Regions from separate parts of the Homo sapiens genome. Here regions 2 and 3 are each linked to region 1. Evidence: fine-mapped expression QTL. A gene starts in region 1. Each other region holds a variant in brackets. All regions are shown on one strand. Distances are from middle to middle.

Region 1 (8,178 bases):
TTAGCATGTAGATATACATCACCTTAAACAATACTGCTTTAATGGCACGAGGGGACAAAAGCCAACCTAAGACTTTTTGCAGACGACAAAACTGTGGTCCAATATCACTACTGAAGCAATGAAGCTGCTATCAAAGCCAATTCTAAGCCAGGCGAGGTGATGCATGCCTGTAGTCCCAGCTACCCAGAAGGCTGAGATGGAAGGATTGCTTGAGACTAGGAGTTGGGAATCCAGCCTGGGCAACATAGTAAGATCCTCATCTCCTAAATTTAAAAAACCTGAACTGAGGTTTATTTCTCATTCCATTTTTTTTCTTTCTACTGGTTTGGAAGTTATATTTATTCTTTCAATGGTCATCCTCGAATTATAATGTACATTCTTACCTAAAGTCTAAATTCAAGTCATTTTCTTTATCCTACCCTTAAACATGAGGACCTTATAAACTTTACCTCTAAGTGTCCCCACTAACTTACTTAACTGAGACACACTGCTTTCATGTTCTCTCACACTAATTAGATGGGGAAACGAAGAATGAAAATGAAAATGAAAATACTAGCCAGGCTTGGTGGCTCACGCCGGTAATCTCAGCACTTTGAGAGGCCCACGTGGGTGGATCCCTTGAGCCTAGGCGTTGGGAGACCAGCCTGGGCAACATGGCAAAAACTCGTCTTTACAAAATAAATACTAGAATCAGCTGGGCCTTGTGGTGTGCGCCTGCAGTCCCAGCTACTCGGGAGGCTGAGGCCGGACAATCACTTGAGGCCAGGAGGTAGGGGCTGCTGTGGGCCGAGATGGCATCACTGCACTCCAGCCTGGGTGACACACACACACACCACACACACACACACACACACACACCACACACACACACACACACACACACACACACACACACACACACACGGCACGGTAGGGGCTGCAGGGGGCCGAGATGGCATCACTGCACTCCAACCTGGGTGACAGAGACCCTGCCCCCCCACCCCCACACACCCAGCACATATAATTGCTCAGTTTTAGCTTTCAATTTATGCTGTGAGGAACTAAATGGTTTGCTTTCTTCTAGCCACATATACATAAACTTTCTCTATGTATAACCTGCCAGGAAACTAAATTCACTAATGACCTAACTCTGGCTAGACACAGGGGACCTGCAAGAGGTATTTGTTGCATACTTCTACCTCAAAAAACAAAAACAAAAACACCTGGCCCTGCGCCGTGCCTCACGCCTGTAACCTCAACACTTTGGGAGGCCAAGGCGGGAGGACTGCTTGAGTCCAAGAGTCTGAGACCAACCTGGGCAACATTAAGACCTTGTATCTACAAAAAATTGGCCAGGTGTAGTGGCACACCTGTAGTCCCAAGCTACTAGGGAAGATCAGTTGTGCCCAGGAGTTCGAGGTTGCAGTGAGCTATGATCACAACACTACACTCCAGTCTGGATGTGAGATCCAGACCCTGTCTGCAAAAACAAAACAAAAACACACAGCTGTCAGTGAAATACTGACTGCTAGAGCTGTCTAGGAAACATTATAAAAAGCAGCTCTTTTTATAATAGCTATAGCACGACTCCCAAGCCCAATCTATACTGCTTATATCGAATCAATGGGGAAAGAGGCAGGTAATGGGAGTTTGAAATTAAAATTGTATTTCCCATGAGTTCCCAAATGATTCTCAGGGTGACTTGAGAACCACTGCTCTACAAGAACGCAGAGAGAAAAGGTGGTAAGCAGAGATATACGTAAATCTCTAACTATAAACAAACAAAGACATAATCATGACAGAGTGTAAGCCTATAGAATATCAATTTAAAAAACTTCACAGCAACCATTCCTTTTACAGGGAAGGCAACTAACCTCTAAAGCGCACAAGATTAGAAAAAAAAATAGAACCAGATGCCTAAAAAAATATGGCAAGATTGGGAAATCAGACCTACTGTATGGGAAACAGCACTTGTTTCCTTGAACTCGTGTAGTGTTTCCCTCCACTGTTCAAAAAACAGATTACGCCTGAGTGGCACTGTGCCGCTTTCAAAACAATCCTATCTTGTTTCCCTCCAGTCCTTCTCCACTTCGTGCATACTACTGCCGATTCACCTAGCAACCAAACAGTGCTGGTGAGAGCTCCAGACAGCGCTTCCTGAAGACGCTTTACGTCCGGTAATGTTCCCCCCAAACAGACACCACCTCCAAAGTCTAAAGAACGACAATCCTCCCCACCACAGGCAGGGGCTCACGGAGTCGCGGGGAGCGATAACTATCTCCCAGCACAAGACGTGAGCGAGGTGTCGGGGGGAACTAGCCTCGCCGGCCCCACGGAGATAGTCCAAAGCTCCTGCTGGAGCCGCAGCGGCCCCAAACAATGGAGTTTTCCCGCCTCCTCAAGGCCCCGCCCCCTGCCCCAGGGCCGGCGAGGGAAGCGAACGCACGCGCGCAAAACCCCGCCCTCAGCAAGGCCCCGCCCACCCCGACCCCTCAGGTCCAGCCTCCTTCCTCGTGCAAGGTTTTTTTTCCCTTTTGGCGCCAAATCTTCGTTGGTTATATTCCCGGGTTATCCAGGGGTTCTACCAGAGGCACACGCTGGGGACAGAAGGGGCGTGAAGGCCAACCCGCGCGCCAGGGCCCCGCCTCCCGGCCAACCGCCCCGGGCTGGGGGAGGAAGGAGAGGGGCAGGCGAAGGATACAGCCGCCGCTGCCCCCGGCAAGATGGCGGCCGCGAAAAGCGGGGCAGGGGGCGCCAGCCGACCGCCGTTACCGCTGCTGCGCGAGGCTCTCAGCAAAAGAAGGACTGCTCCAGTGACCAGGCCTTCCCGAACAGCGACAGCTGCTCTTGGGAAGGCAAGTACTCCCGCCCACCGGTCTGCCCCTTCTCCGGAGCCCCCGTCCATTAGCCCTCCCCGCGGACTGGCCAGTGCCTTAAGCTTTCCACAGTCCCGCTTACTTGTCGGCAGAAACCAGCTCCGCGGCGACGGCGGCAGTGGCTGTGGACTCCATGGCCATCGTTCCCCTGAGGTGGCGAACCAGCGAACGGAATAGAGCCTGCGAGAAAAACAGGCAATTTGGGACGCCAGAGACTCACTCAGGGACAGAAAATGGCAGATTAGAGACCCCGCGCGGCCGGGGCCCTTTTATATACGAGGACCCTTCGCCCCGCCCATCCACTTCCGGATCCTCCCCCTCGGGTTTAAAGGGCCAGGACTCACCACCCATACCCTCCGTCCCCCGCCGGCCTACCACTATCTAGACACCTCCTGCCCTCTCCATATGGCTCCGCGGGATTGTTTCCCTCCCTAGCCCGACTTCTCCAATAAACAGCAACTTCCTGCTTCTCCAGCAAGTCGCATAAGAAGAACTGGAATCTTGACACTACAACTCCTGACAGGACGCCCCTGCGGCATCCAGAGACAGGGAAGCCAGTGCTGCTCTGCATGTTCAGGGCGAGTAGCTGAGAGTCTCCTTCCGGCCTGGATACTGAGGAAGGTGACTTAGACTTTCTCTCCGTCCTCTGAGTCGTAACGGACGGACACGCAAGGGCCGAGGACGGGTACAAGCAGCAGCGACTAGAACTGATCTGGGTGAGATCTAGGCCTCAGCAACAACTGACGCAAAAAGATTTTGTTCTAGGATTGGCTACAGCTGAAACTACCGCGCTTGATTCAAAGCTCGGGGCTTGCAGCGGGAGGCAGCTGGCTCCTCCCTCTGAACCCGCCCCCTTTGGCTGGCCCAATCCGCTGATCCCATCCTCTTAGGCCCTGCCCAGACTCCAAATCTACCAGAATTAATGCTCCCAGCGCTGTTTGTCCACTCCTGCCTATGATTTGCTGTGTGACTACTACTCGTGGGGGTACCGTGATTAGACGCTTTAAAGCTATTAGCTATCTTGTTTAATATTAACAATGCTACTAGTGAGATCAGTGTTAGTCTGTTTCTTAGAAAAATAAACCAAGGGGCCGGACGCGGTGGCTCACGCCTGTAATCCCAGCACTTTGGGAGGCCTAGGCTGGTGGATCACGAGGTCAGGAGTTCAAGACCAGCCTGGCCAAGATGGTGAGACCCCCCCGTCTCTACTAAAAAATACAAAAATTAGCCGGGCGTGGTGGCGGGCGCCTGTAATCCCAGCTACTCGGGAGGCTGAGGTAGGAGAATACTAGAACCCGGAAGGCAGAGGTTGCAGTGAGCCGAGAGCTCGCCACTGCACTCCAGCCTGGGCAACAGAGCGAAACTCCGTCTCAAAAATAAATAAATAAATAGGCCAAGGTTCCAACCTGGCCAACATGGTGAAACCCCGTCTCTACTAAAAATACGAAAATTAGCCAGGTGTGGTGGCAGGCTCCTGTAATCCCAGCTACTCGGGAGGCTAAGGCAGGAGAATCACTTGAACCCGGGAGGCAAAGGTTGCAGTGAGCCGAGATCTCGCCACTGCACTGCAGCCTGGGCAACAGAGCGAGACTCCGTCTCAAAAAAAAAAAAAAGGGGAAGCTGTGACTTGTTCAGAAAGTTGCAAGACAAATCAGTTATGGAAAGCAGTGTGCCTCATTTCCTGCAAATGGCTGAGTGAAAAATAACTGGCAGGCTAAAAAGCTGCAATTCCTCACACCTGGAGTATCATCCATTCCTTTTCACCATGGCCCAGTCTACGCTGATCGGAGTAGGGGTTTTTATTTCCCTTTAGGTTCCAGCATATTGGGAAAGATTCCTGGAGAGGATTCTTATTCCAATCTGTCAAGGCTCGAAGAGGTTGAAATCTTTGGGGCTAGAGAGCTGGACGTGAAAATGCCAATTCCTATGGCAAACATACATGGGCTCTTCCATTATTAGCTAGGTGACGTGAGCCAGGTCACGTAACCCGGATTGTAATCGAGTAGCTGGGATTAAGGTTAAGTGTAAAATGAAGACATATTAGTAGCCACCGCTTAAGGACATTGTGAGAATTACAGGTAATTAGCACTGTGTAGAATTCACGCTAAGCACTCATTGAATGGCTACCACAGTCTGATGATGTGGTAAATGGAGGGTGTTGGGAGGGGAGATCTCTCCAAAGTCCTTGCAGCCAGGGCTAGGGCCTGAGAAAACCTCTGCAATTACTGGTGTGACCGATTCATCCATTAAATTAATATTCACTGAGCAACTTTGAGGTACAAGACTTTGTACTAGGTTCTGGGGACAAAAGACATGGACTCTACCTTGAGGAACTCAGAGAAATATATTTTAAAATATATTTTAGGCTGGGCGTGGTAGCAGGTGCCTGTTATCCCAGCACTTTGGGAGGCTGAGGCAGGCGGATCACTTGAAGTCAGGAGTTCGAGACCAGCTTAGCGAACATAGTGAAACACCATCTCTACTAAAAATACAAAAATTAGCCGGGAGTGGTGGCAGGCTCCTGTAATCCCAGCTACTTGGGAGGCTGAGGCAAGAGACCCACTTGAACCCAGGAGTTGGAGGTTGCAGTGAGCTGAGATTGCACTACTACACTCCAGCCTGGGCGATGGTGAGTCTCCATCTCAAAAAAAAATAAATAGCTGGATGCAGGCCGGGCGCGGTGGCTCACTCCTGTAATCCCAGCACTTTGGGAGGCCGAGGCGGGCAGATCACCTGAGGTCAGGAGTTTGAGACCAGCCTGGATCCCCTGGTGAAACCCCATCTCTACTAAAAATACAAAAATTAGGCAGGCGTGGTGGCAGGCGCCTGAAATCTCAGCTACTTCGGGAGGCTGAGGCAGGAGAATCGCTTGAACCTGGGAGGCAGTTTGCAGTGAGCCGACATCGTGCAACTGCACTCCAGCCTGGCAACAGAGCGAGACTTCATCTCAAAAAATAAATAAATAAAATAAAATGAATAGCTGGGCACAGTGGCTCACGCCTGTAATCCCAACACTTTGGGAGGCCAAGGCGGGTGCATCACACGGTCAGGAGATCAAGACCATCCTAGCCAACATGGTAAAAACCCATCTCTACTAAAAATTCAAAAATTAGCCGGACATGGTGGTGGGGGCCTGTAGTCCCAGCTACTCAGGAGGCTGAGGCAGGAGAATCACTTAAACCCAGGAGGTGGAGGTTGCAGTGAGCTGAGATCGCACCACTGTACTCCAGCCTGGGTGACAGAGTGAGACTCTGTCTCAAAAATAAATAAATAATAAATAAATAAAAATAAGGCCAGGCAGGGTGGCTCACGCCTGTAATCCCAGCACTTTGAGAGGCCGAGGCAGGCAGATCACCTGAGGTCAGGAGTTTGAGACCAGCCTGGCCAACATGGTGAAACCCCGTCTCTACTAAAAGTACAAAAATTAGCCGGGCATGGTGGTGGGCGCCTATAATCCTAGCTACTCAGGAGGCTAAGGCAGGAGAATCGCTTGAACCTAGGAGGCGGAGGTTGCAGTGAGTCGAGATTGCACCACTGCACTCCAGCCTGGGCAACAGAGTGAGATTCCATCTCAAAAAAACAAAAAATAAAAATTTTAAAAAATAAGTATATTTTAAATCCATGTACTTTTTAAATTTTTTTTGAGACAGAGTCTCACTCTGTCGCCCAGGCTGGAGTGTGCTGTCATGATCTCAGCTCACTGCAATCTCCACCTCCTGGGTTCAAGTGATTATCCTGCCTCAGCCTCCTGAGTAGCTAGCATTACAGGCGAGCACCACCGTGCACAGCTAATTTTTGTAGTTTTCGTAGAGATGGGGTTTCACCACGTTGGCCAGGCTGGTCTTGAACTCCCGACCTCAGCTGATCCACCCACCTTGGCCTCCCAAAGTGCTAGGATTACAGGCATAAGCCACCATGCCCGGCCTGTTTTCCTCATGTAACCCCAGGAATTAAAAGTCCTCAAAGGCCAATGGTCCAAATAGGAGATTGGCAAATGAAGGATCTTGTGGGGGCTGGGTTTTCTTCTGCCTGTCCGTGGAGTTATATACGTGTTGTGTGTGACGTCTATAGAAATAGCTCTAATTAATTGGCCTAAAGGAAGATAAGCACTTGGATCAAATATTTATTAAAGGGAAGATAGGCTGGGTGTGGTGGCTCACGCCTGTAATCCCAGCACTTTGGGAAGCCAAGGCGGGCGGATCACCTGAAGTCAGGAGTTCGAGACCAGCCTGACCAACATGGACATACCCCATCTCTACTAAAAATACAAAATTAGCCAGGCTTGGTGGCCCATGCCTGTAATCCCAGCTACTTGGGAAGCTGAGGCAGGAGACTCAGTTGAACCTGGGAGGTGGAGGTTGCGGTGAGCTGAGATTGTGCCATTGCACTCAAGCCTGGATAACAAGAGCGAAACTCCATCTCAAAAAAAATAAAAGGAAAGATAAAACCTGTGATACTTTTCAGTTCACCTGACTTTAATCTTTGAGAAATGAAAACAGCCTTAAAGATTATTGGTAAAAAGCCAATGTCATCAAAATATAAATAAGTGGACTGGGCCGAGTGCAGTGGCTCACGCCTGTAATCCCAGCACTTTGGGAGGCTGAGGTGAGCGGATTGCCTGAGCTCAGGAGTTCAAGACCAGCCTGGGCATCAGGGTGAAACCCCATCTCTACTAAAATACAAAAAATTAGCTGGGCATGGTGGCGTGCTCCTGTAGTCCCAGCTACTTAGGAGGCTGAGGCAGGAGAATTGCTTGAATCCAGGAGGCAGAGGTTGCAGTGAGTCGAGATCGTGCCACTGCACTGCATCCTGGGCAACAAAGCAAAACTTTGTCTTAAAAAAAAAAAAAATAGTTGGACTAAATTATGCAGGTCAGATACCAGGTTGGCTAAATGTTTTATGGTTATAAACTGCTTTTTGGTCTCTACTAAAAATACAAAAATTAGCTTGGCATTGTGGCAGGCACCTGTAGTCCCAGCTACTCGGGACTCTGAGACACAAGAATTGCTTGAACCGTGAGACAGAGGTTGCAGTGAGCTGGAATCATGCCACTGCACTCTAGCCTGGGTGATAGAGTGAGACTCCATCTCCATCTCAAAAAAAAAAAAATTAATCTTGCAAAGAAATTATCTGTGTGAACATATTGACTAAATTCAAAAGTGTATTGTATGATTTTTCTGTAAATTGAACATTGAAATAAAAGCACAATAAGGTACTCTTAAGGCACTAATCTGCTCTTTGGCAAAATTTGTAAAGGCTTATAAAAGGTTTTTTTTTTTTCTTTTTATGTTTCTGAGTCATTATTTTGGCAAAATAAATAATT
Region 2 (8,178 bases), 38 kb before region 1:
CCTCAGAGCTCCTCCATATATTTTGGGAGTGGGAGTGGAGTGAAGAATTTCACCAACAGTTCAGGGTCTTTCTGGCTTCTGGCCAATCTTGGGAGAGAGAAGGGGTTTTTTTCTGGACTTGATTCCCTCATCTGATAGATTCATTCTGTTCGCCCACAGCTTTCATTTCTTGGGCTGTGCTGATTATCTTCGTCTACAGCTGAAAAATGAGGAATCAGGGAATGGGAGTTAGGGAGACTGCTATCCCTGGTGCGACATGGTTTCCAGGCAGAATGCTGGAAAGGTCAGAGTGCCTCCTTTGCCAGGTAGTTCTCTGGATTGGAGAATGGTACAAACTGTTACATCCACTTGGGAGTACAGCAATGAAAAAGATGACACTTGCCTTTTAGAGGCTATTAAATGACCAATGATGTAGTAAGTGATAAGGGCCCAGCCTAGTCTAGGAGGCAGCTGCTTTTTCCTCTTTATTAATAGTCAGGGAAACCAAGCTACAATTAGAGACTTGCCCACGTTCAGACTTTGTAACACTTTTTCAAGCCAGTGGCTCCTCCCAAACGGCCGAGGTTTCCCCACCCATTCTCCTGACCTGCCCAGCCCTGTGGTTGCTGTCCAGGGAGCTAAGGCTCTCCCCAAACAAACTTGAAGATCTCACAGACCTAATAGACACGGCCTTTCCTCTCTGCCTCTGGCTTTATGTCTCTTTCATCCTCCTCTGCCTTTCCCCTGCCCTTGATCCCTTCTGCAGGTCTTGGCTGGTTTCAGGAAACGGGTCCCATCCCATGGACTCCCACTCTGGGGAGCCTGCGCTCCTGCCCTGTGGGACCTGTGACATGGTTTTCCGCTCCTCAGCTCTGTTAGCCACCCATACTCAGCGCTTCTGCATTGGCCACCCGACCCAAGAGATGACATTTGGAGCACAGGCATCAGTTGCCACTGAACCCCAGCGGGCCGCGGTAAGGGCCTCCATGGCCATGGGTGGGGATTCAAAGGAGCCAGGACCTTTATGATTCCTCATCCTACTACACCCTATCCCCAGGTTGTGCCACAAGAACACCAGGGCGTGCCACAAGAACCCCAGGGCCTCCCAGACCAGCAGGCCAGTAGATCTGCTCTAAAGAGGTTAACAGAGGAGGTAGAGCTACCTACCTTCCCCCAGGGCTCAAAACGTTGAGCGTCTTCCCCAAACCTGTAGATCATACTTGGGACAGATTCTGCCCACGCAGAGATCGCGGATCGCTGTTACCTCCAGGTGCAGTGGCTGCGGCTATCCCTACAGGAAATGCGGCCCTGGATAACAGAGGTCCCCAGGGTGTTCGCGGGGCCCTGGACACGTTCCGAGGCGCGGCCTCAGAGTCCCATGTCCGAGGCGGTGGGAAGCCCCAGCGAGCGGCTGCGGGCGCTGTTCAGGACTCGCGCGAGGCGCGTGGCGGAGATGGAAGCGCAGAGCCGGGCCCTGCAGCTACGCGGCGAGGGTGAAGGAGATGGGGGACGGGGACCAAGGACCTCCTCTGCCCTCGCCGTTTGGCTTAAGCTTGCTCGGGCCGGTTCTGACTCGGCCCGCATTCCCTCAGAACTGAGCCGACGCCTCCAAGTTGTGGCCTGTACGCGGGGCGGGATGTCCCGCCTCTTCGGCCTGGAGCAGGAGATTCGAGAACTACAAGCTGAGGCCGGGAGGACGCGGGGAGCTCTAGAGGTGTTGGGGGCCCGCATTCAGGAGCTGCAGGCGGAGCCAGGGTGAGACCCGACTAAGCGGATCCCCGGAACATGCGGCTCCGGGGTGGGAGGGGCGGGCTGGCTGCAGCCCCGGGGCCTCTGATGCGTTACCGTCTCCCTGCGCGTCGCCTGCCACCCCAGGAACCCGCTGAGCTCCCGGCGAGAGGCAGAACTTTATTCTCCAGTGCAAAAGGCCAACCCGGGAACTCTGGCTGCCGAAATCCGGTGAGAGCCGGGGCCGGAGATGGGCATAGGGCGAAGCGCTGAGCAGTTCTGGAAAGACGGCCTTCCTGTTCCCCACTCCCTAGGGCGCTGCGGGAGGCCTACATTCGAGACGGGGGCCGGGACCCCGGCGTGCTGGGCCAGATATGGCAGTTGCAGGTGGAGGCGTCTGCACTGGAGCTGCAGCGGTCGCAGACCCGCAGAGGTGAACAGGAGGGCCTCTCGCCAGCGGTGGTCAGTCCTGGGAGGAGAAAAGAACTCGAGGGAGGGCCTGTGGCTGTGGATGGCATGTGAGCTGACAAGTCCAGCCTTATCCGAAGAGCCTTAGCGCTGGAGAGCTGCTCACAGCCGGACGCGGCCAGTCACCAGAGGTCAAAGGTGACAGGTCACACTTGTTCATCGCAGGAAGGGCAGGTGCCACCTCAGGGGAGCTTCCAGTAGTGGAGGCTGAAAACCGGCGCTTGGAGGCAGAAATCTTGGCCTTGCAAATGCAGAGGGGTCGGGCACCCTTGGGTCAGTGAGCACCCCAACCCTATCCCATCCCACTTATCTCTCCCCAGCAGGCCTGGCTCAGGCAGACAGTGCATGGGGAACAAGACCCGTGTTTGTGACTCCCCTAGTTCATGTCTGCACGTGTGTATCCCTGTATCCACAGGGCTCCGCCAACCCATTTGTGGGCCCAACTCTTGGGGGAGGGGTATCTCAGCTAATTACCTGCTTTGTCCAACTTAGGGGCACCCTAACTCTTCTGCTCCTAGGGCCCCAGGATCTGCGACTCCTGGGGGATGCCAGCCTACAACCGAAGGGGAGGAGAGATCCCCCACTCCTCCCGCCACCGGTGGCACCACCGCTGCCACCACTTCCAGGCTTCTCGGAGGTTCAGTTCTTGGGTGGGGCAAAGGCTGTGAGGACACGGGGTGGGTTGGGGGAACAGGTTGGAGGCAGCTCTGCTCTGAGCAGTTGGGGGAACATGAGCAGCTACAAGGCTTTCTGGAGGAGTCAGCTCTCTTCCCCACAGCCACAGCTTCCTGGAACAATGACCAGAAACCTGGGCCTGGACTCACACTTCCTCCTGCCCACATCGGACATGCTGGGCCCTGCACCCTATGATCCTGGGTGAGGCCCGTGCCACCTTCGACAGCCTCTGTGACTTGGCCAGCACTGCTGGTTAAGGGAGCCCACTAGGACCAGATAGGGTTAGGGACCTGCCTGAGAGGAGGGAGGTTGAAAGGAGTTGGGTATTTCTGTGCTAAGACTTGTGTTCCCCAGGGCTGGCCTGGTCATTTTCTATGATTTCCTGCGGGGCCTTGAGGCTTCCTGGATTTGGGTGCAACTAAGGACTGGCTTGGCACGCGATGGACGGGATACAGGAAGGACCACAGCGTTGCCCCCAGCCCTTTGCCTGCCCCCACCTCCTGCTCCCGGGCCCATGGGCAACTGTGCCATCCTTGCCAGCAGGCAGCCTGTGCCCAGGTCAGTAGGTGGGGATCATGACTCTGGTACTCTGCCACAGTTGAGGCTTATCCACCATTCTGCTAAGTTTTCTCATCTGTATACAGAGGCCGCTGGCTCTAAAGGGCTAAGTCCTAGAAAGGGACTGTAGCTCTGGCTTCCGACACTGCTTTTTGGTTATTCTACAGACTACCACCCTCATCATCAGTATCTTTGGTCTGTGAGCTGCAGGTCTGGCAGGGGCTAGCATGGGCTAGGGCACCACAGCCAAAGGCTTGGGTCTCACTTGGACTATTTGACCAAGATCAGCGGGTGCTAAGTGGCCGCTGGCGCCTCCCACTTCGGGCCCTTCCTCTGGACCCCAGCCTTAGCCTTGGGCAGCTGAATGGGATTCCTCAGGTGAGTGTGGTGCGCAGGGATTGGGCATACAGCAAAGTACAAGTGCAATACCATTTCATCTCTCCCCAGGCAGGTCAGGCTGAGCTCTTTCTGCGGCTGGTGAATGCAAGAGATGCAGCTGTACAGACACTGGCAGAGATCAATCCAGCAAGTGTCCATGAGTACCAGTACCCACCTCCGGTGAGGGCCCAGCTGCAGCTAGGGACACCACAGCTACACATACCGGTGTGGCTGGTATGGCTAAC[G/A]GCCAGCCTTTATTGACCACTGTGTGCCAGTCATTACCAATGCTTTCTTGTTTGATCCTCACATCTCTATGAAGTCCTACTATGTAACAGATAAGGAAATCAAAGCAGGAGCAGGTTAACTTGGTTCACAGTAAGTGAGACTCTAAGGAAGCCTAACTAACTCCAAAACCTGTGTGCTTAACCTTTACATTTTTGCTCAAAACCTGCCTTCTCCTGTTCCACAGGTGTCCAGCACATCTTCACTGGAAGCCAGCTTCCTCACCCCCGCAGTTGGCTTTGCTGATCCCCCACCTCGTACAGAAGAGCCCCTCAGTGGAGTCAAGGATAGAGATGAGGGTTTGGGCCCTCACCACAGTTCTGACTTGCCCCCAGTGAGTTTCTGAACCCAAGTGAATGTGGAGATGAGCATCTGAACATGCACAGGACTGGGGCCTATTTCCAGACCTACAGGTTTACTACTCCATGTTCTGACATTGGGTCTAGAAGCATCTAGCAGTTGAGTACAGAAAACCAGTTCCAACCACAGCTTTACCACCTCCCGTTAAGTCCTTAACTTTTCTGTACCTCTTCTGTTTTTGTAAAACAGATTAAGGATTAAATGAGTTTGTCAGGTATTTGTGATATTGTCTGGCACTTATGAAGTTCTCCGAAAGGTGACTAGGGGGCATTAATTCCCACTAAAGCAACTTTAAATTCCCACTAGTTCCCACTGCTTTTTTTGGTAAAGCCAGTTTTATTGCCAAACTTAAATCCGTTTCCTCAGTATTTCTGCCAGGAAACCTTTCAGGTTCTCAATGTACCCATAAACAGGAAGCTCCTGAGGCCTTATGTACTTTGATTCTGGGATAGGTCCCCAGCCCAAGGTTGTTCCCCCAACCAGGGGTCACATGTGAGATCTAGCTTAGATACTGTGCCTAGCCCTAGATCCCAGTGCCAACCAGAGAAGGTCAAGTGCCTGGGAGTAAACTACATCGTGACTGTCCTGACCAAGAAAAGGGGGCAAAGCGCCTCAGGACCTGGAACATATACTGCAAGGGCAACATCAGGAAGAAACTCCACAGCCAGGATAAGCCAGAGATCCTGCAACCATGAGTTACTGTGACCAGCCCAGAAAAACTTACTTAGTCTGAAAAATTGGGTTGAATTTAGGGGCCGGCCATCGCTTCCTCTGCCTCCAGTGCAACAAAAGCAGCCCTATGGGTGTCATGACTACTAAATTGAGGTGGTGATATAGGGCAGGCATTGTTTGGAATTCAGATCCTAACTGGTACTTAGAGTCAGGTCAGAGGCAGTTCAGTCTCAAGTGAGCCCTGACCCCTAGACACCAGTGAGAGCACAACAGGTCTAACATTAATACTAGTGCCCTCACCACCAGCATCCTTGGACTGGTGGGCTCGTTTCTGCCTTTGAAACCCTCTATCGCACACAGAAATGCTCCAGGCAGTCAGGTGAAGTGGCTCACGCCTGTAATCCTAACACTTCCTGAGGCCAAAGTGGGCAGATCACTTTAGGTCAGGAGTTCGAGACCAGCCTGGCCAACATGGTGAAACCTCGTCTCCACCAAAAATACAAAAATTAGCCTGTAGTGCTGGCTACTTGGGAGCCTCCTGAGGCAGGATAATCTCTTGAACCCAGGAGACAGAGGTTGCAGTGAGCCGAGATCACGCCACTGCACTCCAGCCTGGGCGACAAGAGCAAGATCCCATCTCAAAAAAGCAGCCTAAGACCCCACTTAAGATCTTTAAACATAATTCCAGACAAGGAGATTTTTAGCATCTTTATTTGAGAAGTCAATTCTGCAGATGGGTAACAATTCCAAGTGTTGATATATCTCAACCTTTCTATACAGAAAATAACAAAACTCAACCAGCCAGCCTCCCCACATATGCTTCCAACCACATCTGGAGTGTCCACCATCAGTCCCCTTGGCTACTTTCAAACCAGAGCTCAAATGCAGACCGTTTTCCTTAGGAATCATTCCCCTGACCCAGGTTTTCAGAGTTCTTTTTCCAGGACAGAATTATAGCCCCAGGTGAAGACTAGGTGGATATAGGACAAGAACCATCCTAGGCCTGGCTCACAGCCAAAGTCCATCATCCATTTTCAGCACTGAAGAGCAAGATCTTCACCAATTCTTGTTTTTGTAGCCCCCATCCAGGGACAGCACCACTGAAAGTTTGCAAGACAGCTGGGTTCAGTGAAGTGTTTGAAAACAGAATATAGCACCATTGGAAAACAAAGGCCTACAGCCACACTTGATCACCTCCACGTTAGACAGATAGGAATTAGGATCAGGAACACAGATCAGTACAGAAGGCCAGAACAAAACCTTTGGCTAATATATAAAACCAGCAGTGCTCCAAGGCAGATTCAGCCAATAATTAAGAAAAAAACCATCAAAGCCTCAACCTTTGCTTACAATCTTTATTGAAGTTATACAAAAAGAATCCTCCAAAAGTGAAAAAATACATTATATACAAAAACACTTTCCCTTGGGAGGAGGGCTGTGCCCCCTCTTAACATGCAGTGCTTTCAACTGTAGCTCCAGCCTCCACTGTCCCCTCCACTGCTGCCCGGCTTTCAGCCTGATTCTCAGCCTGGAAGACAAACAGAACCTGGGCATGAGTGAGCCTAGTTTAAGCCATTCTGTCTTATATAACTGAGGCCTCAGTCATAGGAAGCATATACAAGTCACCCAAACTCTGCTTTGCTCCCTATATTAAGAGGGCAGTGACCACAAAGTATTTCTTGAATACTCTGTGATAATGGGGCTGACAGAGCCAATAATCATCACGTGGAAGGAAGTGACCTAATGGTTTTGCCCATCAAGTGCCTTCTCATATATTCATCGAGGGACCTATAATATACAGGTTCCATTTGTCAGTGAGTCATCCTATACTCCCATAACCAAACTGTTTTCCTGCACAAGTACCGTTTTCTGTGAGGACTGCACTCAACAATCGTTAGCAGGCTCAAGGTGGGGAGCATGCACTTGAGAGGACTGATTTCCCCAGGTCCTGAGAACAAGGAATGAGGCAAGAGGCTAAGCCCTGCTTAACTGCCCACCTCCTCCTCCATGTTTTCCGAAACTTCATTTCCACTGGGGACAGCATCCCCACTGCCTCCGTTCACCTCCGGCTCTTGTTTGGCTTTCTTTGCATCATCTTTCCGGGGACTCTCTTCCTCTGGTTTCCTCTAAAGATATAATTGTGAAGGCTTCACAAATGTGCTTAATGTTTTTAAAAAGACAACTGCAAAACATTTCCTTAACCCTTGTGGTGCAAAGATCCTGAACATCAGGATTCACAGCTCTAAGGGTCTCTCTCCCTAGCCACAGGCAGATGCCAACCTGTACTCTCAGAATGTATTAATCTGTCCCACCATATCACTTCAGGCCCCTCTACCGGAAGCACAGGGAGATAGGGTTGGGGTGAGGAGATGTGAATGGTAATCACTGTACAAGTTTGAATTCCTGTGTTTGAGTCAGGAAACAGAACAGGAGTTCAGAGTTCCCTGGCTGAGGGCAGTGGCTCACGCTTATAATCCCAGCACTTTGGGATGCCGAGGTGGGTGGATCACGAGGTCAGCAGTTCAAGACCAGCCTGGTCAGTATGGCAAAACCCAGTCTCTACTAAAAATACAAAAACTAGCCAGGCGTGGTGGCGGGCGCCTGTAATCCCAGCTACTTGGGAAGCTGAGGCAGGAGAATCACTTGAACCCGGGGGGCAGAGGTTTCAGTGAGCCGAGACTGCGCCACTGCACTCCAGCCTGGGTGACAGAGCAAGACTCCGTCTCAAAACAAAACAAAACACAACAGTCTCCACTCACAAATCCTTACCACCTTTGGAAAATAAGTGTCTTATATGCACCAACTATAGGGAGGGGTTTATAGGAAAGGGATTAAAAATGGAGTCTGAGGAAACGGTAGAAAAGAAACACCACATGTAGACTTACCTTCTTTCTGACAAGGTGGGAAATATCAGTCACACAATTTGATGAGGAAGCACCGTCTGTTGGCTTTCTACTGGCAATCTGGCAAAATAAGCCCTTATTAGCAATTGTACAAGCTATATGAGATCAATGCTGAGGCTTTTATAATTTTTTAGTTTTTCAGAGACAAGGTCTCACTATGTTGCCCAAGCTAGTG
Region 3 (8,178 bases), 50 kb after region 1:
CCGGGGATTGCAAATAGTGCTTTACGGCTAGAGCGGCAGGAGGTGTATATGAGGGAGGAGTGACAAGGGGTCAGAGGGTAGAGAGCCTCGTGTGTCAAGCTAAGGAAGGAGGTTGAACTTGATACTAAGCTAAATGCTATAGGAAGATATCAGCAGGGGTTTGGAAAGCAGGTCAGTTAAGGAGCAGCTGGGGAAATGGGGCTGTTTAAGTTAAAGAAGAAAAGAGGGGAGATAAATCTTCTGGTTTGAAACATATACTGAGTGAAATTGTTTTATTTTATAATTAGAAAGGGCCAAGCTTTCTCCTGGTTCAGCAAACCATCTCTGATGAGCAGGTTAGGGGCAGGTTACCAGACCACCCACTATTCCCTTTTGTCAGATGCTCAGACTGCTCAACCGTAAGGGTTGGTCCTGCCTCAGAACCCACTCTGGTCATAGAGATCTCAAACTAGGGTCCATCTGTCAGGCCTGACATTTCTCTAGGGGAAGGTGGAAGGAGAGAATTAGAGATGTCTCTAGTTGCAGAATTATGGCCTGCAGTGGGCCAAAGGAACATGACTAAGACCTCACAAAAGACAAGATTCTATCTTGTGGTGAGGGGTGTGGTTGGGGGTAGGAATTAATCAGAGTGAAGCATTCTTGCCTAGAGGTAAAGCTCTCCTTTTTCATGTGTATGCTTTTTCAGAGCCTTTTGTCATTTGTCAACATGATAAATTTTGGGCAGAGTGGCACTCAAGAGCAATATGAAGACAGATTACAGTGGGTGTGAGTCTTTCTAGTCCCGACATCATCACTCTCCTAATTGCAGTGCTTTTGGCAAGCAAGCTTCCTAATTTCTGGAAGCTTTGGCCAGGATGGATAGCTAGAAGTAACGTATGAATACATGAAAGAAGTAAAAGATTTTTCCCCTGCCTCTAGGCAGAGCTGACCCTGCCAGCCAGGACAAACAGGACAAATAGGTCAGAAGGTTAGATAAACTAGGAGTCCTCTAGTCATTTTTTTGACCTTCTCTAACTCAGCGGTTCTCAACCTGGGGAGACAGTTGGCACCGTGTGTGGGGGGTGCTACTGGCATCTAGAGGGAAGAGGCCAGGATACTGCTAAACATCCTATTACACATAGGACGGTCCCTCCATAACAAAGAATTATCAAACCTAAAATGCCAATAGTGTTGAGATTAAGAAATAACCGAAAAGTGCTTCTACTTACAGAGACTTGGTTCTAAAAAAAAGAATCTGAGAATTAATCAGTTGCTGAAGCATCAGGTAGCTAGAGATAAAAACCAACTTTAGTATTCCAAGTTGGCTTCATGATTGATCCAATTTGGACATGTTCCCTTTACTGCTCTGGTCTGGACTATATCTCTACATTCATTCTTGATCCCCTAAAATTGGAGGGGAAAGAAGAGGGAAGAAAAGAAGAAAAATCAATATTTTATGTCTCTAGTTTCATCTTCTGGGAAAATGAAAACTTGAAGCTAAAATCCATAGCGTTCAATATCCTAAATGGGTGCCTTATTTAATAATGAAAAGCAGCATAGTATTAACCAGGACAGCAATAGAAGAACAATTATCAAATCATACTTGAATTTAAGGTTGATATCTGATAGAAAATATAAGAATTGAGGCTGGGTGCAGTGGCTCACGCCTGTAATCCTAGCACTTTGGGAGGCCGAGGTGGGCAGATCACGAAGTCAAGAGATCGAGACCATCTTGGCCAACATGGTGAAACCCTGTCTCCACTAAAAATACAAAAATTAGCTGGGCATGGTGACACATGCCTGTAGTCCCAGCTACTCGGGAGGCTGAGGCAGGAGAATCGCTTGAACCCCAGAGGCGGAGGTGGCAGTGAACCAAGATTGTGCCACTGCACTTCAGCCTGGCAACAGAGCAAAATTCTGCCTCAAAAAAAAAAAAAAAATTGAAATGTCAGATTTGTAAAAATAAAAAATAAAATAATGAGTGGAAGTCAATGTAAACCCAGAAACAAGTTCAAGCCTGGCATGGTGGCATACTCCTGTAATCTCAGCTATTCAGGAGGCTTAGGCGGGAGAATTCACTTGGGCTGGGGAGTTTAAGGCGGCAGTGACCCATCATCAGCCACTGCACTCCAGCCAGGATGACAGAGCAAGACCCCATCTCTCCTTTTTTTGGTTGTTTTTGGAGACAGGGTCTCACTCTGTTGCCCAGGCTGGACTGCAGTGGCATGATCACAGCTCACTAAAGCCTCACCCTCCAAGGCTCAAGCAATCCTCCCACCTCAGCCTCCCAAGTTCCTGGGACTACAGGTACCTACCACCACACATAGCTAATTTTTAATTTTTGTAGAGATGGGGTCTTACCATGTTGCCCAGGCTGGTCTTGAATTCCTAGGCTCAAGTGATTCTACTGCCTTAGCACCCCGAAAATGCTGCAACTATAGGCATGAGCCAGCACTCACAGCCCACTTCATCTCTCAAAAAAAAAAAAAAAAGCCGGGTGCGGTGGCTTATAATCCCAGCACTTTGGGAGGTCGAGGCGGGTGAATCACCTGAGCTCAGGAGTTCGAGACAAGCCTGACCAGTATGGTGAAACCCTGTCTCTACTAAAAATACATTAGCCAGGAGTGGCGGCAGGCACCTATCATTCCAGCTACTCGGGAGGCTGAGGTTGGAGAATTGCTTGAACCTGGGAGGCAGAGGTTTACAGTGAACCAAGATTGAGCCACTGCACTCCAGCCTGGGTGACAGAGCAAGACTCCGTCTCAAAAAAAAGGCCAGGCGTGGTGGCTCATGCATGTAATCCTAGCACTTTGGGAGGCCAAGAGGTCCCCACCTGAGGTCAGGAATTAGAGACCAGCCTGGCCAACATGGCGAAACCCTGTCTCAACTAAAAATACAAAAATTAGCCAGGCGTGGTGGTGCATGCCTGTGATCCCAGCTACTCGGGAGGCCGAGGCAGGAGAATTGCTTGAACCTGGCAGGCAGAAGTTGCAGTGAGCTGAGATTGCGCCACTGCACTCTGGCCTGGTCAACAGAGCAAGATGCCATCTCAAAAAGAAAAGAAAAGAAAAGTTCAAATAAAGATTAGGTAGGCTGGGAGTAGCAGTTCACACCTGTAATCCCAGCACTTTGGGAGGCCAAGGTGGGAGAATCTCTTGAGCCCAGGATTTCAAGACCAGCCTGGGCAATATAGTGAGACCTCATCTCTTAAAAAAAAAGACAGGTAAAGAGCAACTTAAATACATTTATTTTTTATTTTTTAAATGAATTAAAAAATTTTTTTTTTGGAGACTGGGTCTTACTATGTTGTCCAGGCTGGAAGTAGAGCAGACATTTTGTGACCATAGGGTTATCATAAGAATAAAAGTAGGCCAGACTCACGGCTGTAATCCCAGAACTTTGGGAGGCCGAGGCGGGCAGATCATGAGGTCAGGAGATCGAGACCATCCTGACCAACATGGTGAAACCCCATCTATACTAAATATACAAAAATTAGCTGCTCATGGCAGTGCGTGCCTGTAGTCCCAGCTACTTGGGAGGCTGAGGCCGGAGAATCGCTTGAACCAGGGAGTTGGAGGTTGCAGTGAGCTGAGTTCCTGATACAGTGTGGAGTGATCATACCAGTTTTTAACTTGTATTTTTTTTTTTTCTAATCAAAAAACTATAGTCACAGCACTTTGGGAGGCCAAAGGAGGAGGACTGCTTGAGCCCAGGAATTGAAGACAAGTCTGGGCAACATAAAGAGTCTCTGTCTAAACAACAAAAAAAAATTTTTTTTTTTTTTTTGAGACAGAGTCTCACTCTGTCACCCAGGCTGGAGTGCAGTGGCGCAATCTCAGCTCACTGCAAGATCCGCCTCCCGGGTTCACGCCATTCTCCTGCCTCAGCCTCCCGAGTAGCTGGGACTACAGGCGCCTGCCATCACGCCAAGCTAATTTTTTGTATTTTTAGTAGAGACGGGGTTTCACTGTGTTAGCCAGGATGGTCTCCATCTCCTGACCTCACGATCCACCCACCTCAGCCTCCCAAAGTGCTGGGATTACAGGTGTGAGCCACCGCTCCTGGCCAACAAAAAAAAATGTTTTAGGTCGGGCGTGGTGCCCAGCACTTTGGGAGACCAAGGCAGGCGGACCACCTGAGGTCAGGAGTTCGAGACCAGCCTGGCCAATATGGTGAAACCCCATCTCTACTAAAGATACAAAAAATTAGCCTGGTGTGGTGGCGAGCTCCTGTAATCCCAATTTCTCAGAAGGTTGAGACAGGAGGATTGCTTGAACTCTGGAGGCGGAGGTTGCAGTGAGCAGAGATGGTGACACTGGACTCCAGCCCGGGCAACAAGAGCAAAACTCCATCTCAAAAAAAAAAAATTTTTTTTTCAAATTAGCCAGGCGTGGTGGCACCCATCTATAGTCCCAGCTACTCAGGAGCCTGAGGTAAGAGGATTGCTTGAGCCCAAGAATTCCAGGCTGCAGTGAGCTATGATGGTGCCACTGCACTCCAGCCTGGGCAACAGAGCAAGACTCCGTCTCTAGAAAAACTAAAAGATAATGTGTAAAGACACATTTAGTAGTGTGTTAACTATACAAAAAAGACACTGTATAGTTTAAAAACAAATCCTACACAGCCTTACTTTTCAATTTTTTTCTTTTTTTTTTTTTTTTTGAGATGAAGTCTCGCTCTGTCGCCTA[C/T]GCTGGAGTGCAATGGCGCGATCTCAGCTCACTGCAATCTCTGCCTCCCGGATTCAAGTGATTCTCATGACTCAGCCTCCCGAGTACCTGGGATTGCAGGCACACACCACCATGCCCAGCTAATTTTTGTATTTTTGTAGAGATGGGGTTTCGCCATTTTGGCCAGGCTGGTCTTGAACTCCTGACCTCAGGTGATCTGCCCACTTTGGCCTCCCAAAGTGTTGGGATTACAGACAGGCATGAGCCACCGCGCCCGGCATCAATTTTTTCTTTAAAGGGAGTAATTTGTATACAGAAGGGTTAAATGCTTTTTAGACAGAAAAAAAAATGTGATAGAACCAACTTATTAATCATCTTCATCTTCCTCCTCCTCATCTTCCTCATCTTTCTCCTCTTCCTTCTTTCTCTTTCGTTTTTTCAGCCTTGACGACTCCCTTTTTTGCTATATCAGGCTTTCCTTTAGCTTGATATGCAACAATTTCCATTTCCTATTTTTCCTTTAGCTTCTCAGCCTTCTTTTCATAAGGCTACTTGCCATCCACAGCAGTGTTTTTTTGGTCATTGTTTTTTGAGACAGAGTCTCACTCTATTGCCCAGGCTGGAGTGCAATGGTGCGATCTCTGCTCACTGCAACCTCCGCCTCTCGGGTTCAAGCGATTCTCCTGCCTCAGCCTCCCGAGTAGTTGGGATTACAGGCGTGCACCACCACGAGTGGCCAATTTTTGTATTTTTAGTACAGACAGGGCTTCACCATGTTGGCCAGGATGGTCTCGAACTCCTGACCTCGTGATCTGCCCACCTCGGCCTCCCAAAGTACTGGGATTACAGGCGTGAGACACCATGCCCGACTGCAGCAGTGTTATTCCACATCTCTCCCAATTTCTTTGCAACATCACCAATGAATAGGCCTGGGTGTTCTTTGATTTTTGGGCAATACTCAGAACAGAAAGACAAAAAGGCTACAGGAGGCCTTTTGGATGCACTGGGATCTTTGAACTTCTTTTTATCTCCCCTTTACGGGGGACATAGGTTTTCATTTCTTTTTTATAACGGGCCTTGTCCACCTTTGCCATGTCTTCAAATTTTCCTTTCTCTTTAGCAGATACAGTTTTCTACCTCTCTGAGCACTCTTAGAAAATGCTGGCTGGGCGTGGTGGCTCACGCCTATAATCCTAGCACTTTGGGAGGCTGAGTCGGGTGGATCACCTGAGGTCAGGAGTTCGAGACCAGCCTGGCCAACATGGCAAAAACCCTGTCTCTACTAAAAATACAAAAATTAGCCAGGCATGGTGGCGCACACCTGTAATCCCAGCTACTCAGGAGGCTGAGGCAGGAGAATCACTTGAACCCGGGAGGCAGAGGTTGCAGTGAGCCAAGATCGCGCCACTGCACTTCAGCCTGCGCGATGGGAGCAAGACTCCATCTAAAAAAAAAAAAAAAAAAACTCTGAGAAGCTGACTGAAGCCTCTGGGTGCTTATGTTCCTCCCGACAAGTTTTGCACGAAAAATGCATATGATGACATTTTGCCTCTAGGTTTCTGAGGATCTCCTTTGCTCATGTCTAGTTATTTTTCCTCAGTGAGGCACAGAGTCACCCTGTGCCTGTCAGGCTCTCACTTGCCCTGGTGCTGTCTCTATGGAGCTTAACATACTGTAACAGCTGTCTACTTCTTTTTTTTTTTTTTTTTTTTGAGACAGAGCCTTGCTCTGTAGCCCAGTCTGGAGTGCAGTGGCATGATCGCCTCCCGGGTTTAAGCGATTATCCTGCCTCAGCCTCCAGAGTAGCTGGGATTACAGGTGTCCACCACCACGCCTGGCTATTTTTTTTGTATTTTTAGTAGAGACGAAGTTTCACCATGTTGGCCACGCTGGTTTAGAACTCCTGACCTCAAGTAATCTGCCTGCCTCGGCCTCCCAAAGTGCTAGGATTACAGGCGTGAGCCACTGTGCCCTGCCTTACTTGCTTTTTATCATTTTGTTTTGCTTTTTTTTTGTTGAGGCAGGGTCTTGCTCTGTTGCTCAGGCTGGAGTGCAGTGGTGCATTCATGGCTCACTGTGGCCTAAACCCCCTAGATTCAATCAATTCTCTCATCTCAGCCTCCTGGGTAGCTGGGACTACAGGCATGCGTCATCATGTTTGGCTATTTTTTGTTTGTTTGTTTAATTTTTTGTAGAGATGGGTACCCCTATGTCGCCCAGGCTGGTCTCCAACTCCTGAGCTCAAATGATCCTCTCATCTCGGCCTCCCAAAATGCTGGGATTACAACCATGAGCCACTCCACCTGGCCCTGTCTACTTGCTTTTTTTTTTTTTTTTTTTTTTTTGAGACGGAGCTCGTCTTGTTGCCCAGGCTGGAATGCAAATGGCGCGATCTTGGCTCACTGCAACCTCCACCTCCCAGGTTCAAGCCATTCTCCTGCCTCAGCCTCCCGAGTAGTTGAGATTACAGGCATGTACCATCACGTCCGGCTAATTTTGTATTTTTCGTAGACACGGGGTTTCTCCATGTTGGTCAGGCTGGTCTTGAGCTCCCAACCTCAAGTGATCCACCCGCCTCGACCTCCCAAAGTGCTGGGATTACAGGCGTGAGCCACTGTGCCCGGCCCTGTCTCCTTGTTAAATGGGAAAAATTAATCCCCTATTTGGTTAAGCTTGTTATTTGCAGTTAATCTGTTACTTTCAGTTGCATTCAATTTTAACAAATAGATATCCTTGATAACAGTGTTTCTGAAATTGGTATTTGTAGGCCTCTGTACATTCAAATATAATTTTAAAAATTGAATCCTTGTAAATTGAAGAATTCAACTGTTTTCTTTTAGTGATAATCTAAAAAAATTTAACATAAACATATTCTAAATCATCTGTATGAAAAATAAGCCCGGTAGTGGTGACTCAGCCTGTAATCCCAGTACTTTGAGAGGCCGAGATGGGTGAATCCCTTGAGACCAGGAGTTCGAAACCAGACTGGACAACATGGCGTAACCCTGTCTCTATTAAAAATACAAAAATCAGTCAGGCATGGTGGCACATACCTGTAATTCCAGCTACTTGGGAGGCTGAGGCACAAGAATCACTTGAACCCAGGAGGTGGAGGTTGCAGTGAGCCGAAACCATGCTGCTGCACTCCAGTCTGGGCAGCAGAGCAAGACTCTGTCTCAAAAAAAATAAAATAAATAAAAGAAAAATGAGTGCTGTCTTGTGATTTGGGTTCCCATTATTTTATTTTATTATTTTTTGAGACAGGGTCTCACTCTGCTCACTCTGTCACCCAGGCTGGAGTACAGTGGTGCCATCTCGGCTCACTGCAGCCTCGAGCTCTGGGACTCAAGCAATCCTCCCACCTCAGCCTCTGGACTAGTTAGGACCACAGGCACACACCACCACACTGGGCTAATTTTTTATTTTTTGTGGAGATGGTGAAGGGGTGGGTTGCCCCTCCACACCTGTGGGTGTTTCTTGTTAGGTGGAACGAGAGACTTGGAAAAGAAAAAGACACAGAGACAAAGTATAG

Which allele goes with the higher level. Alleles are on the strand shown, and positions count from the first base shown. SD is a standard deviation of normalised expression in the study named. Not every link is listed here.
As copies of T replace C in region 3, the expression in monocytes after LPS of the gene that starts at base 3,102 in region 1 goes down (moderate effect, 0.74 SD a copy in Fairfax 2014).

What was found. PIP is the estimated chance that this variant, and not a neighbour inherited with it, causes the effect. A credible set is the group of variants that fine-mapping cannot tell apart.
Region 2: its variant is the best candidate, but not a certain one, in a credible set for the expression of NASP in whole blood (TOPMed, PIP 0.53).
Region 3: its variant is the best candidate, but not a certain one, in a credible set for the expression of NASP in monocytes after LPS (Fairfax 2014, PIP 0.57).

The regions. Positions count from the first base shown.
Region 1 is chr1:45,578,965-45,587,142 of GRCh38, reverse strand. NASP (nuclear autoantigenic sperm protein) reads right to left here and starts at 3,102. Exons shown (of 15, transcript NM_002482.4): 1 at 2,938-3,102. The coding sequence starts at 2,996. RefSeq lists silencers at 2,407-2,706, 3,617-3,676 and enhancers at 3,207-3,516, 3,967-4,026, 4,437-4,486.
Region 2 is chr1:45,616,511-45,624,688 of GRCh38, reverse strand. It overlaps NASP (nuclear autoantigenic sperm protein), which reads right to left. Exons shown (of 15, transcript NM_002482.4): 13 at 7,986-8,063; 14 at 7,098-7,226; 15 at 5,796-6,628. The coding sequence ends at 6,548. It overlaps CCDC17 (coiled-coil domain containing 17), which reads left to right and starts at 635. Exons shown (of 13, transcript NM_001114938.3): 1 at 635-953; 2 at 1,037-1,132; 3 at 1,250-1,472; 4 at 1,572-1,734; 5 at 1,855-1,938; 6 at 2,022-2,140; 7 at 2,341-2,448; 8 at 2,694-2,812; 9 at 2,954-3,051; 10 at 3,205-3,408; 11 at 3,576-3,786; 12 at 3,856-3,966; 13 at 4,256-4,645. The coding sequence starts at 780. The coding sequence ends at 4,414. The variant G/A (reference allele first, on the strand shown) is at 4,032.
Region 3 is chr1:45,528,975-45,537,152 of GRCh38, reverse strand. It overlaps the pseudogene HMGB1P48. Among named protein-coding and RNA genes, the nearest start is that of PRDX1, 11 kb to the right of the region's middle. The variant C/T (reference allele first, on the strand shown) is at 4,668.